Linked DNA regions of Homo sapiens: all the other regions are linked to region 3. Evidence: fine-mapped expression QTL. A gene starts in region 3. Each other region holds a variant in brackets. All regions are shown on one strand. Distances are from middle to middle. Region 1 overlaps CCDC175 (coiled-coil domain containing 175). Region 2 overlaps RTN1 (reticulon 1). Region 3 holds the start of RTN1 (reticulon 1).

Evidence for each region. PIP is the estimated chance that this variant, and not a neighbour inherited with it, causes the effect.
Region 1: its variant is the best candidate, but not a certain one, in a credible set for the expression of RTN1 in whole blood (TOPMed, PIP 0.63).
Region 2: its variant is the best candidate, but not a certain one, in a credible set for the expression of RTN1 in whole blood (GTEx, PIP 0.55).

The regions. Positions count from the first base shown.
Region 1 is chr14:59,563,742-59,568,970 of GRCh38, forward strand. CCDC175 (coiled-coil domain containing 175) reads right to left here. Exons shown (of 20, transcript NM_001164399.2): 4 at 4,504-4,639; 5 at 1,306-1,534; 6 at 1-118. Among named protein-coding and RNA genes, the nearest start is that of CCDC175, 10 kb to the right of the region's middle. The variant C/G (reference allele first, on the strand shown) is at 2,235.
Region 2 is chr14:59,796,699-59,801,927 of GRCh38, forward strand. The region is part of intron 1 of RTN1 (reticulon 1); the gene reads right to left. Among named protein-coding and RNA genes, the nearest start is that of RTN1, 71 kb to the right of the region's middle. The variant G/A (reference allele first, on the strand shown) is at 2,916.
Region 3 is chr14:59,867,772-59,873,000 of GRCh38, forward strand. It overlaps RTN1 (reticulon 1), which reads right to left and starts at 3,005. Exons shown (of 9, transcript NM_021136.3): 1 at 2,619-3,005. The coding sequence starts at 2,859. RefSeq lists a silencer at 2,914-3,013.

The DNA of each region.
Region 1 (5,229 bases), 300 kb before region 3:
CGGAAACAGTAACTGTTTCTTTTATTTTTGACATTTTAGTTTGTAATTTATCCAATTCTTTCTTCTTTTGATAAGTCTCCATTCTCTTTACTTCACGGGTATTTTCAAATTCATTAATCTATAGTGACAAGCATAAGAAACCAATTTAAAAAGCCTATTAGCACAACAAAGTTTAAAAAATCTTTTAAAAACAGTGTCAACCTAATTCATATTTAATCTAAGTATAACATATTCAAGTATAGTAATAAGTAAAAAATAAACCTAAAAACCAGGGTTTCCTTATTTTGCAGTATCACAGGAAAAAGCATGAGCCACAAAGGCCAAACTGTAATTATTGAATATTGAAATAGTAAATTTGTAAGAGCAATACTAACAATGATTGTTAATAACTAATTATAAAAGTAATTGCCACGGTAGTGATTTAATAGTAAATCACCACAGCAGTGGTGACCGGATTTACAACGTACTAAGCAAACAAGAAGAGTCGAAGGAAGGATTGAAGAAATTATCTGGGAATCTAAATTCACATTATTTAATGGGAAATAAAACCAGCTAAACACAGAGTAAACAAAATCATCAAAGACAGAGCAGCTTGTAATCCTGGAAAACTTCTTACCATTTTATCACAGTGCCACTTGTTAGACCCTAATGAACGATGTCACCCTCTTATCAAAACCACCTCTCCCCCAGTCAACCAGAGCAGAACAAGGAAGAAACAATCATAACAGATCTGATGCTGAATTTTAATTAACATGGCACAGCAGGCAGTTCAGCTCCTGCAGTGGCAGAAAAAGATGCAGTAGTTATCCCTCCCCCACCCTCACAAATTTTGCTGCTCTCGAAACATTGTTTTCTCTTTAAAGCCCTCAGTTCTGCCTGGCCCCACTGCATGCTGCTGCTCTCTCTGATTCATTTATCAGGAACAGCAGGGCTGGGCTGGTGCCCTATCTGAATACCCTAGTCCTGTCCATACAGACACAGTCTCAGGGTTATCAAAGGCAACTGGATAAGATGGTAGCCTATTCCTTGTCCCTGTATGGCAGCATATAAGCAAGGGGACACCCCAGTGTTACAAATCCTGTCACTTATATTCTTACCCATGAACTGAGATGCTGCTACCAATCAAATGTCTTCCCCAAGAGCAGAAGTGTCCTTGAGTCTCCCGCTCATCCCGTTTTCCCAGCGCGTTCACAGAAGATACCACAGAGGCTGCTTGCCAGCCTTGAGGACAAATAAATTATTTCCCATTTCCTGCTCCAGATTCTATACATTATTGTATTTTAAAGAATAAATCATGCCACTTACCTGTGCAGTCAACTCTTGTTTTCTTATTAGATATTCTGCCCTTTCTTTTTCCATTAGCTCCTCTGCCTCTTGAATACATTTTTTTTGCAATGCTATGTCTTCTCTCTTCAAGTTTATTTTGGTATAAGTCTCATTTATGTAAACAGTGGTGGTGGCTTTTTTCTCCATAGTTTGGTTGAGTGACAGGACAAACCTTGCATGCTTCCTTGCTAGCTCTTCCTGCTTCTCCCTGGGAGGAAAGAATTGCTCACAGAGTGAGAAGCACAGCTCCTAAGAAAGGAATAGTCTGTGTGGTGAGAAGAGCCCTCAGCAAGAGGAAAAGTGTAAGGAATACTTATTTTATGACTGTGTTTATGATTGTCTAAACTTGGTTGAAGGCCAGGTGCAGTGGCTCATGCCTGTAATCCTAGCACTTTGGGAGGCCGAGGTGGGCAAATCACCTAAGAGGTCAGGAGTTAGATTGCAGCCTGGCCAACATGGTGAAACCCTGTCTCTACTAAAAATACAAAAATTAGCCGGGGATGGTGGCGTGCTCCTGTAATCCCAGCTACTCGGGAGGCTGAGGCAGGATAATTGCTTGAACCTGGGAGGCAGAGGTTGCAGTGAGCCGAGATCATGCCACTGCACTCTAGCCTGAGTGACAGAGTGAGTCTCTGTCTGAAATTAAAAAAAAAAAATTGAGATGAGGACAGAAGGAAACACAAAACAAGCATCAACCTTGCAACTTTTACCACTTTTGAATGTCACGTGGCCTTGCCTCGCCCCACCCGTCCCCAGATGCCAGGTAGTGACCACAGGGTATTTTGGGTTAAAGTATACAATGACTCAAAAGTAATTTTGAACAGGATCTGAATGGGATCTGGCCAGATGAGTGTTTTGATATGTATTGTCATCATGTCTATCTTATCATCCTGAGATAGGCTGTTAAG[C/G]TAAAGAAAGAGAAATCTCATCACATCTCCAGCCACCCTGGATGCTATAGCCCTGCAGGCAGGGCCCAACAGAAAGCTCACCTTCCTCTGGATAGAAACTAGGGAAAGAAAAGAGTCTATCTTTACTGTTTGAAGGATGCCTGAAACCTAATTTGAGCCCTCTTACCTTCTCCCAGCTGTAGCCAACTCTGAGCTCAATAGGAGTCATTAACCTCACACATCCATTGCGGGCGGTGTCCATCTAAGGAAGACCTTAAGATTGTCTGAGGAAGACCTTAAGATTTTGTCTACCCAGAGGCTAACAACAAAAGGTTTACAAAAGGGACAATTGGTGCCATTTCTCTATTTTCCTTTTTAAAAGCTCCTGCAATGTAAAGACCCTTTTCCTTTTGCTAGTCCTCAAGGCTAGTGAGTTTCAGAGGAATTGTGTTTGAAGGCTCAGGAAAATAAAAGCAGGCTGCTGGGAAGTTTGCTTTCAGAGGTCAAACTCCACAAAAGAAATGCAATAAAAAGAAGTCTAGGTGAGAGGCTCAGTAGGTGGTCAGATAATGGGTGCTTTGTGGATGCAGCAGAGGAAGCCTTCTAAGAATGAATCAACTTGAGGACTGGAGCCTCGGGGAAACAAAGCAAAATAAGTGAAATCAAAAAACCTCACTAGGTGTGTTGTGATGGGCTGAGAAGAAAAGAACACTCACAAACACAGTGTGGAGCCTCAGGAAAACACATTCAAACAGCTGCTCTGTCTGTATCTAGTTTTTGAAATTTGCCCAGGACAGGAGACATACCCACCACCTGTCAGAGTCTGTGAACACTTTGATATTCATTTCTCTTTGAAAAAATGATGCAACAAATGATTGTAGCTTGATGATGCCAACACACCTGCCACCACCTTCTGTTTGTTATTGCCTTTCCGTAAAGATTTGTCTAGAGCAGTGGTTCTCCCAATGTGGTCAGGACCAGCAGCAGCAGCATCACCTGTCAGGAATGCAAATTCTTATCCCCACCGCACTCCTCCCAGATCTGTTAAATCAGCAATTTTGGAAGCAAGTCCCAGTAATTTGTGTTTTAACAAGCCCTCCAGATGATTCTGATGCAAGCTCAAGTTAGAGAATCACTGGTCTATAGGAATGTGATGTTGCTGACCGGTTGATATAAATATCTAGCCTGGGTATTATTTTTCTTGCTATTAGTTTAGGAATAGTCTAGTTTATGTAGCAGGCTCTGGCCATGGTGGCTAGCACGCACCACACACAAATCTGTATTGTGAATCCCCAACAGGGATTAGAGTATGTGGTATTTCTCAAACTTATGTAATCATGAACTTTCTCTTTTGTGGAGCATCTCCCAGCACAGGTGTTCTGAGAGCCTGGTTTGGGATCAATGTCCCTGGGTCTTGAGGTCTCTAGCTGATTTCTGATGTTTATTATCTGGGACACCAGGCAACCCTCTGATTATTTTGGATTCCCAAGAAGACTTTTTTTCCCCTATGATAAGGGCTCTTTGTGAACATTTCTCACTCTGGAAACTAACATGCTGATATTTATGATATTTATTAAAATTTATCAAATTTTCTCATAGGGGTAATTCTTCAAGGGGGCCTATCTTTCAGAATATATCTCTTCCTTTCATGAGCTAGCAAAGTTAAGAGTTGTGATCCCCATTTCACAGATGGAGAAAATGAGGCTCACTAAGAGGTGTCAGATCTTGAGCTATAGGCAGTTTCATATATTATCTCATTTAATTACAGACACAATCTGGAACCCTGTCCTGGGAACCAGCCTCATCCTCAGTCCTTCAGTGGATTACAAATATGACTAAATATCTTCAATGAACTGAACTAGATACAATAGGTCTGGTTTGACATTAGATTTACAATATAATCCCTGCAAGATTTCTTACTTTGGTGGTGGGGGTTTGTAAACTTAATTCTACAAAAATGGAAACTAAACCCATTGTGTGTCTACCTTTGGATGTAGCATTAGAGGTAGTGTGTGATTTACAAACAGTAGTTGCTGCTAGGAAGCTGGATTGCCTCTGAAATATTACAAGCCTCCTGGCTGCTGTGGTTGAAGATTTTCTGCTCTCCTCCTCAGTCCTCTGTAGCCACCACCTTCCCTACCCCATCAGCCTGGGCCATCTCCTACAAGCCATCTTCACCTCTCAACTCGCCCTGCCACAGTTCAGATCAGAGAGTAAACCCCTCCCGACAATTTTCCCACTCCAGCCTCAGACCCCTGCTCCCTCAAATACTGAATATAAGAATACCTACCCCAGAGCTTCATTATATTTTGTCAGGTCAGTTATTTTCTTCTTCAGAAGCTCTATTTCATTCTCTGTCCTTGTAATTCTCATTTTTATTGTATTTATCTCAAAAAGATTTAATCTGCGAGCGTCTCGGACACATTCTTCAAAGTAAGTGGAAATATTACTACATTATTTGAGGAAAAGCACAACTGTAGATACTGACTTTCACGCAAAAAAGCTTTCTTTGAAATATTCTTTTAATAATGTTTTTTATCAAGCATTTCTTACTCCCTTGGTCCCTCTCAATCTTACCTACTAATTATTTCTCTTATTTCTGCTGCTGCTCTGGTAACCAGCTTTCTGTGGGCTTGGATCAATTTCAGACAGGTGCAGTCTGATAGTGCCTGATTCCCGCCCGTTCCATGCACTTCTCACCTCCTGCCTAGGACTTCTGCAACTTCTACATGGGGCTTCTTTATGCACCCACACCCATGCATGTATAACCCAGAAGTACAAGAGGTAGGGCAAGCATCAGACCAGTGATAGACAGGAGCTGGTGCATAAATATTTCTCCCTCTCTCGCACTGATAGATAGTCCTGAGAAGAAGTAACACTGGGTCTTGGGGGCTTCTTCTCATAATTAATTAGTTTCAGTTAGCAGCAGCCAACATCATAATCCACCCCATATTTGCTCTCCCTTGACCTTGCTTTGGTCTCCTTATCCCATCCTCCTCTTTGGATTATACTCCCT
Region 2 (5,229 bases), 71 kb before region 3:
TCAGATTTCACCTCTATTGTGAAGACAGTTTACCCCAACCTCTGTAAACAGTAGAGGTACTCCTTCCAATTTTCTCCAAAGAAATTATTCTCTGGTTGCATTCATCATGTTATTTCCACCTGTTAATTTACTGATCTCTTTCACCAACTAGATTGTGGGCCCCTGAAGGCGGCGATTTTATCCTGTCTATCTTCATATCCACAGTGCCTAAAATAGTGCCTCACACAAAGTAGGGGTTCAATAAAAGTTTGTTGAGTTAATCAATAAAAGATCAGGTATGTTAAGGTTATATATGAACTCAATTGCAAATTATTATAATCTATGAATAACTTAGTCAAATTCCAAGTGGATCACATGAATTTTCAGAACTTTTCCTTCCATCATTGTTGGAATTAATATAAGCTCTTTGCTTCCATGGATGATTCCTTTGGAAGATTTATTATTTATTTTCTATGAAGCAGTTTGAGCTTCTTATTCTATGTAATAAACTATTGCTAAATGCAAAACAAATCTTCGTCACCACCACTGTACACCATTTTTGAGCAACTTCTATAAGCACAGAGAGTATGGGATAATAATATGGGAAAAATTCCTTTGTCCAACAACAATCTTGGTTTCCCTAATTCCAGTGGGTTATGTGTATTGCAAATGCAACCTATGCCAATTAAAAGATCAGCTTTGAAAGGAGTCAAAGTGGGGAACCAGTGGATTCTGATTCTGAAAAGGCACTGCAATATCTAGCAGTCTTCTGTCCTGTAAAGCTATATAGAAAGCTTTCTCTTTAGTTATTCAAAAGTCCATTGTGCAATCAGTAACCAGAACCTACTATTTAGTAAAAAGAATACTCCAGGGATGCTTCTCAGCATAGTCAAAGAGGTAGCTACCTACATGGCAGGACATTGGTGATATACCAAAACATCTGAATGCCACTAAATATCTGCCCTTGTGACTGGACTCACAGTCTGAAATTCTCATTATTAGAATTATTTCTTTGGTTTAAAGCATTATTTACTCATTCCTTATAAAGAAGTAGAAGTACCAGAGTCATATTAAAGATAAAATTCTGCTGGTTTCATTATTTTGCCTAGCGTCATCTTTGTTAACACTATTGAGGAATAGTGTTTATAGTGTTTGAAAGGCTAAAATCCAACTTGTCTTCATAGCATAAGAAATGTTGACCCAGTGATGCCAACATTTTAAAAGACTTTTAGTCAAATACGAGTTTAGTTAGTAACACTGCCATTGGTCCTTTATAATATCACTTGAGGGGCTTAATGGATTTTATTTTGTGATTTTAGCAGATATAGATTCATAAAAAATTATCCATTTTAACAGAAAGAGCAGAGTCATGATTCTTAGCATCCTCTTATCCTGGGCAAATGGATATAACACCCCTTATTCCAGAGATATACTGTACTATGTTTTTCAAGCAATTGATGTGTCTGAATTTTTCAAAAAATGTGTTAATTCATTTCTCTCCAATGAGGTCAAGTGAATTATGACTTGGCTATACAAACAAGTACAATATTATTCTAAGATTTGGAGGTATATGCCTCAGAGTTCAGATATAGCTCACCACTGACTAATTGCATGAATTTGGGCAAGTTATATCAGCTTATAACTTAATACAAGTTATATCAGCTTGTATATTAATTTCCTATTGCTACTATAACTGTAACAAATTATCACAGATTTAGTGGCTTAAACAACACAAATTTATTACCTTACAGTTATGGAATTCAAAAGGTCCTAAAATCAAGGGGTTAGTAGCATGGGTTCTTTAGGAGGCTCTAAGAGAAAAAGTAGCTGCCTACATTCCTTGGCTTGTGCCCCATTCTCCATCTTCAAAGCCAGCATCATAACATCTCCCAATCTCTCTCTCTCTCTCTGATTAGGATCTCTGCTTCCATGGTCACATCCTCTTACCTGACTCTGATCTTCCTGCCTGCCTCATCTAAGGACTCTTGTGATTACATTGGGCCCGCCTGGATAATCTCAACATTTTAATATTCTTAGCTTAATCACTTCTGCAAAATCTCTTTTGCCATATAATGTAAAATATTAACGGGTTTCAGGGATTAGGACATGGATATCATTTGGTGACAGCAGGGGTGGGGGTGGGGAGACATTATTCTGTTTACCACAGTGTTGAAGTTAATAAATTTACAGATAAAAATTTATTTCAAGTATTAGTGACTTAAAAAGTGACTCAAACTATTAAAATGATATAGGATTCTTAGCACTCCCATAACAGTTAGTGATTTGCTAAGATCTCTTGAAAAACAATTGCCAGATTTTTCAAGCAATCATGTCTGAATTTTTCTAAAAGTGTATTAATTCATTTCTCTACAATTAGGTCAAGTGAATTATGACTTGGTTTCACAAACAAGTGTAGTATTATTTTAAACACGTGATTCGCTACATGCAAGTTAGGGTATTACCTCGTGATTTGAGATGAAAGAAAAGGATTTAAAATTCTTTAAAAGGACATTCAGAAAAAAGGCTAAGGATAGTACACTTAGTCTGAATAAAAACAAAATACCTTATAGAATGAGAATAAACTGGCAAGCCATACTCATCAAATTCCACTCATCACCATAACCATGTAGGATGGAATTCTGCTTCTTAACAAGTGGAAAGCTTCAGGAGAACATCACTCTCCTTTTAACATTGAGGCAAATGTGGATAATCTACAAAATCATCAATTTTCTCAGGGCCATCAGAGAGTTGAGGTAATAAGGCAGCCAAGAGAACTGAATTTCAAAGTCAAAAGCCCTCCCTAGAGAGATGGGACACATGAATTCTTTCACCTTTAATAGAGCATGGAAGAAAGAGACAGCCACCATAATATGATAAATCAAATTTAAATGTGGGCTAATGCATAATTTTAGAATAACTGGGTACCCCAGACACAT[G/A]GAGAGTTCACATTCTTCTCCATGGATTCTCATTTGGTGCTCACAAGAAATATTTGGAAAAGGGCAGGAGAGCAGAGTGTCCTTTGGTGGCATAGGCATTCAGGTCGTGACCAGGTGCCGGGAGGCAAACAAAAAATACTGCCCACTTTGACAGACTCTTCTCTCCTAGGAAAAAAAGCTGTAAGTCACTGGGCTGGGGTTGGCTGGGGGAGAGGATTCCGTACTTTTCAAGAGCTTCCAGAGACACAAGGCAGAGTTTGACAGACAAAGAGGTAGAGGTGCATGAACACTGAAAAAGACTTCCCTTTAAGATCTAGACACAGAGAACTCACCTAAAACTAAAGCTAGATGGGGAGAATTCCTATCTCCACCCCCATAAGCCTGGCAAAAAGTAATAAGCAAAATTAATTTACTGGTGAAAGATGGGCAAGGAAAGAGAACCCCTCCGTGGCACAGATATACAGAGCCTGCTGGAAGCTGAGAGTGAGGCAGGAAAATTGAGAAAAGCCTTCTGGCATTATATGACCACAGAAGCAGAAGGTAACAGTAACCCATTGTGAGAGGAATTTGAAGCCTGTGAGGCAATGAAGGTAACTCTAGAAACAAAATCCCAGCCTAATTCAACCAGACACTGACTCAAACCCCCACCCTAACAGCCTTACATAAGATTAGGGGTATGCTCATTTCTGGGCATAAATGCTATTTGCCTCTTTCTCTATTATTTTTTGATGTTTGGCATTTATTCAAAACTAAAAGGAAACACAAAAATACATCTTTTTGTTGTTGTTGTTTTTGTTTTTGTTTTGAGTCAGAGTCTCACTCTGTCCCCCAGGCTGGAGGGCAGTGGCACGATCTCGGCTCACTGCAAGCTCTGCCTCCAGGGTTCACACCATTCTCCTGCCTCAGCTTCCTGAGTAGCTGGGACTACAGGCGCCCACCACCACGCCTGGCTAACTTCTTACATTTTTAGTAGAGACAGGGTTTCACCGTGTTAGCCAGGATGGTCTCGATTTCCTGACCTCGTGATCTGCCCACCTCAGCCTCCCAAAGTGCTGGGATTACAGGCGTGAGCCACCACACCGGGCCAAAAATACATCTTAAAATAATTATTTAAACAGAGAACATTGTCAAGAGATAAAGCAATCAGTAGAATCAAACTCAGAGGTGACACAGATGTCAGAAATATCATACAGAGAGATTAAAATAACTACGATTAATATAATAAAAGATCTAGAAGAAAATATAAAAGATTAATGAACAGAAAGGAAATTTCACCAGAGGAGTAAAAAATTTTTTTAATATTCTAATGTAAATGCTGGAAATAAAAGATGTAAAAAAAAAAGTCCTTCAAAAAGCTCATCAGCTTACTGGACACAACTGAGGAAAGAATCAGTGAACTAAAAGATAAATAACTAGAAATTGTCCAAGCTGAACACATAGAAAAAGAATGGGGGAGGAAAAAACAAAACACAGCATCCAAGCTCTCTGGGACAACATCAAACAGGTAACATACATGTAATTAGAATCTCAGAAATACAAGGTAGAGCAAAAATAAGGCAGAAAATATTTTAAATGATAACGGCTGAGAACTTTCCAAAATTAATCAAGACAAAAAATCACTGATTCAAGAACCCTAGGAGACTCCAAGCAGGTAAAACAATTTTTTTAAACCAATATGTCTAGATACACCATAGTCAGTCTGCTGAGAACTAAAGACATAGACAAAATCTTCAAGACAAGGAAAAAGAATCATTACAGACAGGGGAGGAAAGATAAGAACTATAACAGCCTTCTTATCAGAAACTATGCAAGCCAGAAGACAACAGAATAGCATATTTAACATACTGAAAGAAAAAAATAGTTAACTGTCAATATAAAATTCTATACTCAGTGAAAACATATCTCAAAAATAATGGCATAATAAAGCCATCATTTCAGACAAACTATAGCAAGGAGAATCACTATCAGCAGCTAGGCAATGGGAGAAAAGTTATAGACAGTTCTGCAGGAAGAAGATAAATTATGAAATTTCATATATATGTAACTACAGATAACTGGCTGAAGGAACAATAGCAAGACTGTATTCTCAACAAAAGCACAAAAGATATGAAGGAGGAATGGAAGTATACTCTTATAAGATTATAACGCTATACATGAGAGATATATTATTAGAAGATGGACTATGATAAGTTAAAGTCTTCTATACTTAGAGAAAATTCCACAATTTTCAGTTCTTCCTGTACTGTTCCATGTAAAAATCTGTGTTCGTGGGTAACACAGGAAAAAAGTATCCCAGTCAAATACGTTTGGGGTC
Region 3 (5,229 bases):
CATCACACTCAAAGTCTAAGTTACTTCTTAGTTTGAGTTGAGTCCCAAAAAAGCACCACTCTTTTAAAAAAATAAAGCACTCTTCTGCCATGTGGGGACACAGTGAAAAGACAGCTGTGTGTGGACCAGGAAGCAGACCCTGACCAGACACCAAATCTACCTTGATCTTAGATTTCTCAGCTTCTAGCACTGTGAGAAAATAAATTTCTGTTTATAAGCCAAAAAAAAGTAAATTAAGAAATACAGTGTAAAGTAGTGTGCTTAATAGGCATCTCTGATACAATTGAGGGCTCACCTGCTAACTTTGCTTATAGCAATAGAACTGCCAAAATAACAGACCAGGAAGCTGGACAAGATTTGTTTGGAATTTTAAGATCTAGTTATTTATTTATACAGCATTTCTGGCGTTTGAGTCTCTTATAGCAGCACATCCGGTCTACTTAATAAGAAACACAGAGATTTAAGACATTAACCAATCAACAACTATATCAGAAATTCCTTCTAGCCACAATCATAAACTAAAAAATTTCTATATAAATATGCAAAATATGTGCTCCTTCCATCTTTCTTCATTCTTCTCCCATCCAAACGTAGTATCATGTTTGATTTTATTACTATATTTGTTGCCTAGGATAGAAAACCCCAAACACATTCAATAAAGCAAGGTATTTCTATAATAATAATACTAAAAATGCAAAATGCATTGTTATTTACTACAGCCACCTTTCTGTAACAATGCACTGTACATTTTGAAATTGCTAAAAGAGTAAATTTTAAACGCTTTTACCACAAAAAAAAAGTACATGAGATGATGGATTTGTTAGCTAATCATTTGACAATGCAGACATATGTCAAAACATCACACTGTACCCCACAAATATATATTCTAAGCATTTCCTATATAATAACTTTTGTGGATATGTTACTGAGCATGGGGCACTTAGCTTCCTTTTTCTAGTTCACATAATCTTAGTGGCACTAATAGGAGGTGGGTAATGTTTCATAAAGAAACAATTTACTTTGATTACAGTGGATAAAGATTCTGAACTATGAGCAGTCTATCCTCAACAAAGAATGGTAAAGACAAAAACTACCTTCCTTTGTCTATTATCATTTGCCATCTTCTTTTGCAATTATAAAGAGTTTTGTTTTCACTTGGATGCAGAAGTTGAAAGAGAGACTGAGCAGCCATTCTTAGATTTAAATCCTCCCCCACTCCTAGGGATATAATAATTAATATATAACCTTTGGCGTTTGGCGTTGGGGCTTTTGAGTACTTTTCTTTCTTTCTTTTTCTTTTTTCTTATATAGGGTCTCCACTTTTTCTCTTCCTTTCAGGATATTGACAATTTTTATTCAACGCATTCTCCAAACCTCTTTTCCCCAGCTCAGATCTTCTGTACCAGGGCAGTTAATTACGATTACCTTAGACATTCCACATAACCCTTAAGAGAAGCTTACGAAAAGGGGTTTCTTTAAATCAACCACCAAGAGCACACACACCAGTCCCACTCCCCTTCCCCTCCTCTGGGAGCACCCCCCACCCCAGGCCTTCTAGCTCTACATTGCCAAAACTACACAACTCCCACTCCACCATAGCAAAGCTTTCTCAGGAAAGAGCACCACACAGCATCCCCTTTCCTCTCCCTGGAAACAGCGTTAACCAGGCCGGCAGCCTCAAAGCGCGCTTCCTGGATCCTTTGACCAGGATGCGCCAGGGGCCTGGGCTCCCGCTGGACACTGGCGCGCTCAGACTTTGAATAGGGCGTCAGGCGAAGAATGGCCAAACCCAGGGCAATTTCCGGGGTGGGGGGGGGGGGGCGCTTAGACTGCTGGTAAACTGTACCACGTCCACTCACCACCACCCAAGCCCTCCAACCCACAGCCAGGCCCGCCGCACTTAGGACTTGAAGTTTCAATGCTCCCTGCAAGGTGGGGCCATCCGGGCAGCGGCGAAATACAGGTTTTGGGCGGGGGCAGCCACAGCACCCAACCCTCTTGCAAAGCTGTGCCTCCCGAATTAGGGACAAACTCCCTGGGATTTGTTTTCTGCGGGAGAAAAGGCGGAGGGATGTGGGGGGAGTAAGGTGTGGTGGCGATTCGTGGAGGGCAAGGGTAAGGGGCAGTTACAGCCACATCTCTGCCCTGGACAGAGCCGGGTCCAGGGGCCGCGGGCCTGCCCGCCGCTCGGTTGTCAGCATCTCCTGTAGCCGGCGCGCACACTGCGCGCAAACACGCCCCCCAAAATCCCCACAACCTGTCAAACGGGCCCTACAGCTCGGAGCCTCCTGGCAGGAGGGAGAAACTTGTACCCAGACTCGCCAGCAGCCAGAATGCTGCTGTTTGCCTATGAGAACAATTTTTAAAGCGGAAATAATCATGATAATGAAATAAAAGGATCAAAAGCATCTTGACTTTTTCTGAGCCTTTGGGAAAAATAAAATTGTTGTTTTCTACCAGCCCGCGAATATTCCCAGTCGCCCGTGGCGACGCGGGGGTGGGGTCGGCGCTCAAGGCAGAAAGCGCGAGGCAGGTGCCCAGGAGAGCCGCGCAGAAGGGGACTGACTGGGGGGCCCTGGTCCCCGACGCCATTTGAGGGGCAGCGGCGCCCGCCTTACCTGTGGATGCAGTTTCCATGGCAACGGGCGACTGCCGGGCGGGGCCCGAGCCGGCTTCCCGCGACGCCGCTTCCCGGGCCCTGGCGCCCAACCCCGGGCTGGGCTCCCCAGCCTGCGGCGCCGGCGTGGCCCCTTTCGGCGTCACCGCTTCGTTCTCCCCCTCCCCCCGGTGCCTGAGCCACTGGGACCCGGGGCCGGCCAGCGGCAGCAGCTCGTCCTGCGGATCCCCCGGCGCGGCCATGGCTGGCGGTCCCCCGGCGCGGCGACGGCGGCTTGGCTGGGCAGAGGCTCGGTGGCTGCGCGGGCGCTCCCTGCTGCTGTCCCCGGAGGGACTCGGCGCTCAGGGAAGCTGCGGTGTCTCAGCGTCGCCGCCGCCTCTGCTGCAACTCCGCCGAGCCGCTGCCTGCCGCTCTTCCCGCTTCAGCTCCTCCTTCTCCCCCCTCCTCTTCCTCCGGCCCCGCCGCGGCCGCTGCCTGCGCTCCTCCTCCTACTCCACTCGCTGCTGCCGCCGCTGCTTCGCTATTCCCAATCCTGTTATTACGCAGGTGAAAATGGCCTGCTTGGTCCGGGTCCTCCTGGGCACGTCAGCCCCCAACCTGCAAATGGCAGGCCCCGGTTAGGGGATGTGCCAAATCCACTCGAATCTTCCTCTCGTTTGGGGAGGAAAAAAAAGGAAGAACCAGCAAGTAGCAGCAGCCACCAGCAGCGTCGCCTTCCCAACTGAGAAAGTTAAGCCCCGACTGGTGTCCTGGGTCCCGAGGCAAAGAGGGAAAGCTAGAGAACTCAGGGCCACAGTTCTGAGAGTGACCAGTATGAGTTGTGGAGGGGACACAGGTCTGAACGGGGAAGGGGTGGAGATGGGTTCTGATGGCAGATGGAGACCAGGGAAGCTGCAACCCCGCGGTTAAATCCTGCGTTTCCAGAATGGGCCTGAAAATAGTGGAGTAAAGAAATGAGTTATCAGGACAGCCTCCAAAAAAAGCTTAACAGATCTCACCCTGACCAGCCCTGAGGGCAAACAGGGTGTCAATAGGCAAGGACAAAAGCTGTACATTTGCTTTCAGAAACACTGAGCCAAGGCCATCCTAATCATAAGCTGTCTGTGCAGTCCGTTGTATTTCAGAATTTGGACATTCCATGAAGCTTGCATCTTTTTCTTTACAGTTCACTGTGATAAAATGGAAGATAGTCAGCAAATAAACCCAAACTCAGAGGAGGAAAGTGACTTGCCTTATCATATGTTGTGCCCATACGAAGACCCATCTTTTCAAATGTCTTGTGTTTTATTGGTTCCCAAGTTGTTTATATAATAAAATAATGTGCCTTTAAAAACTAAGATTCACCACAACACACAGGGTGAAGGAATAGGTTTTTCTGCTGTTTCTTCTCTAGGAAAGGTGGGCGCAGACGGTACCGCACACACTGTGAGACTGTGGGACTCTTGGCCACCATGCGCATCTTGAGGATTTCATACCTGTCCATTGGTATATTCAAAGGCCAACTTCAGGACCATTCAGGTGCTCCTCAATAATGCTAAAATGAAAAAGCCCAGAGTCTGCCTAATCTTTTGTTCTGCTAGTGCACTAATGTTCAAAAGATGACAATAAATTAGAGAAAAATCATTCACTAAACAATAAATATGGCCTCCTGAAGCCAGATATCCCTGGAAATCTGATGGTCACCAAAATTTTACATTTTTGACATACTCAAAATTATGTCTCATGATGGAAATATTCACTATCTAGATTGTGGTTATAGCTTCACAGGTGCAAACATATGTCAAAACTTATTGTTTACTGTAAATATGAACAATTTAATGTGTTGTCAGTTATAACTCAATAAATCTATAAAAATAATCTCATCCAAAAACAACAAAATAATTGGTTATCATGAATCATAATGATTTTTAAACATCTTTCCATGGGAAAACAAGAGTGTATTTAAAAAACCGTTAAGTTGAAAAGCTTATTCCACTGCTGTATTTCCATGGAGCTTAATCCTGTCTTGTAATTAGAGGGCACTTGTAAGTTTTTTCAAATCTATTACTTAGTATTCCCTAAAGCATCAGAAATACTAGATGGGAATTTCTCATGGTTTTATTACTGATAACAAGACAAGAACATAGACAATTCTAATGATATAACCTTAAAGTGGTTATTGATGAATACTAATATTTGAGAATTGCTATGCAAAGGAGTTACATACAAAATAATATGAAGTATATTCTTTTGTTTCTCTGAGAAACATGAATGAAAGTCATCATTAAAAAACTGGGAGACCTAAGCAAGCCTCTGTGTTTCCTTATGATTAATAGATAGGAAGTTTGGGGATATGATTCTAATTATTTGTCAATTTCTTTCATACTAATCAATACTCTCATTGAGAATGTGTGAAGGAAATAGCCAGTTAAATCTATTTAGAGTGTAGTTGTTAAAGGAAATTGAACATTATTGACAGTTCCATTTTGATAAAGTATTCTATTTTACACTGCTGAAAAGAGATGAGCACAAGATTTCAGTGTTAGCAATTTTCATTACTAACTTTCCTTATTAGACTCCACCTTTGGATGTATAAAAATTATCTATTTGGGGGAAGAAATTTTCAGGTTTAT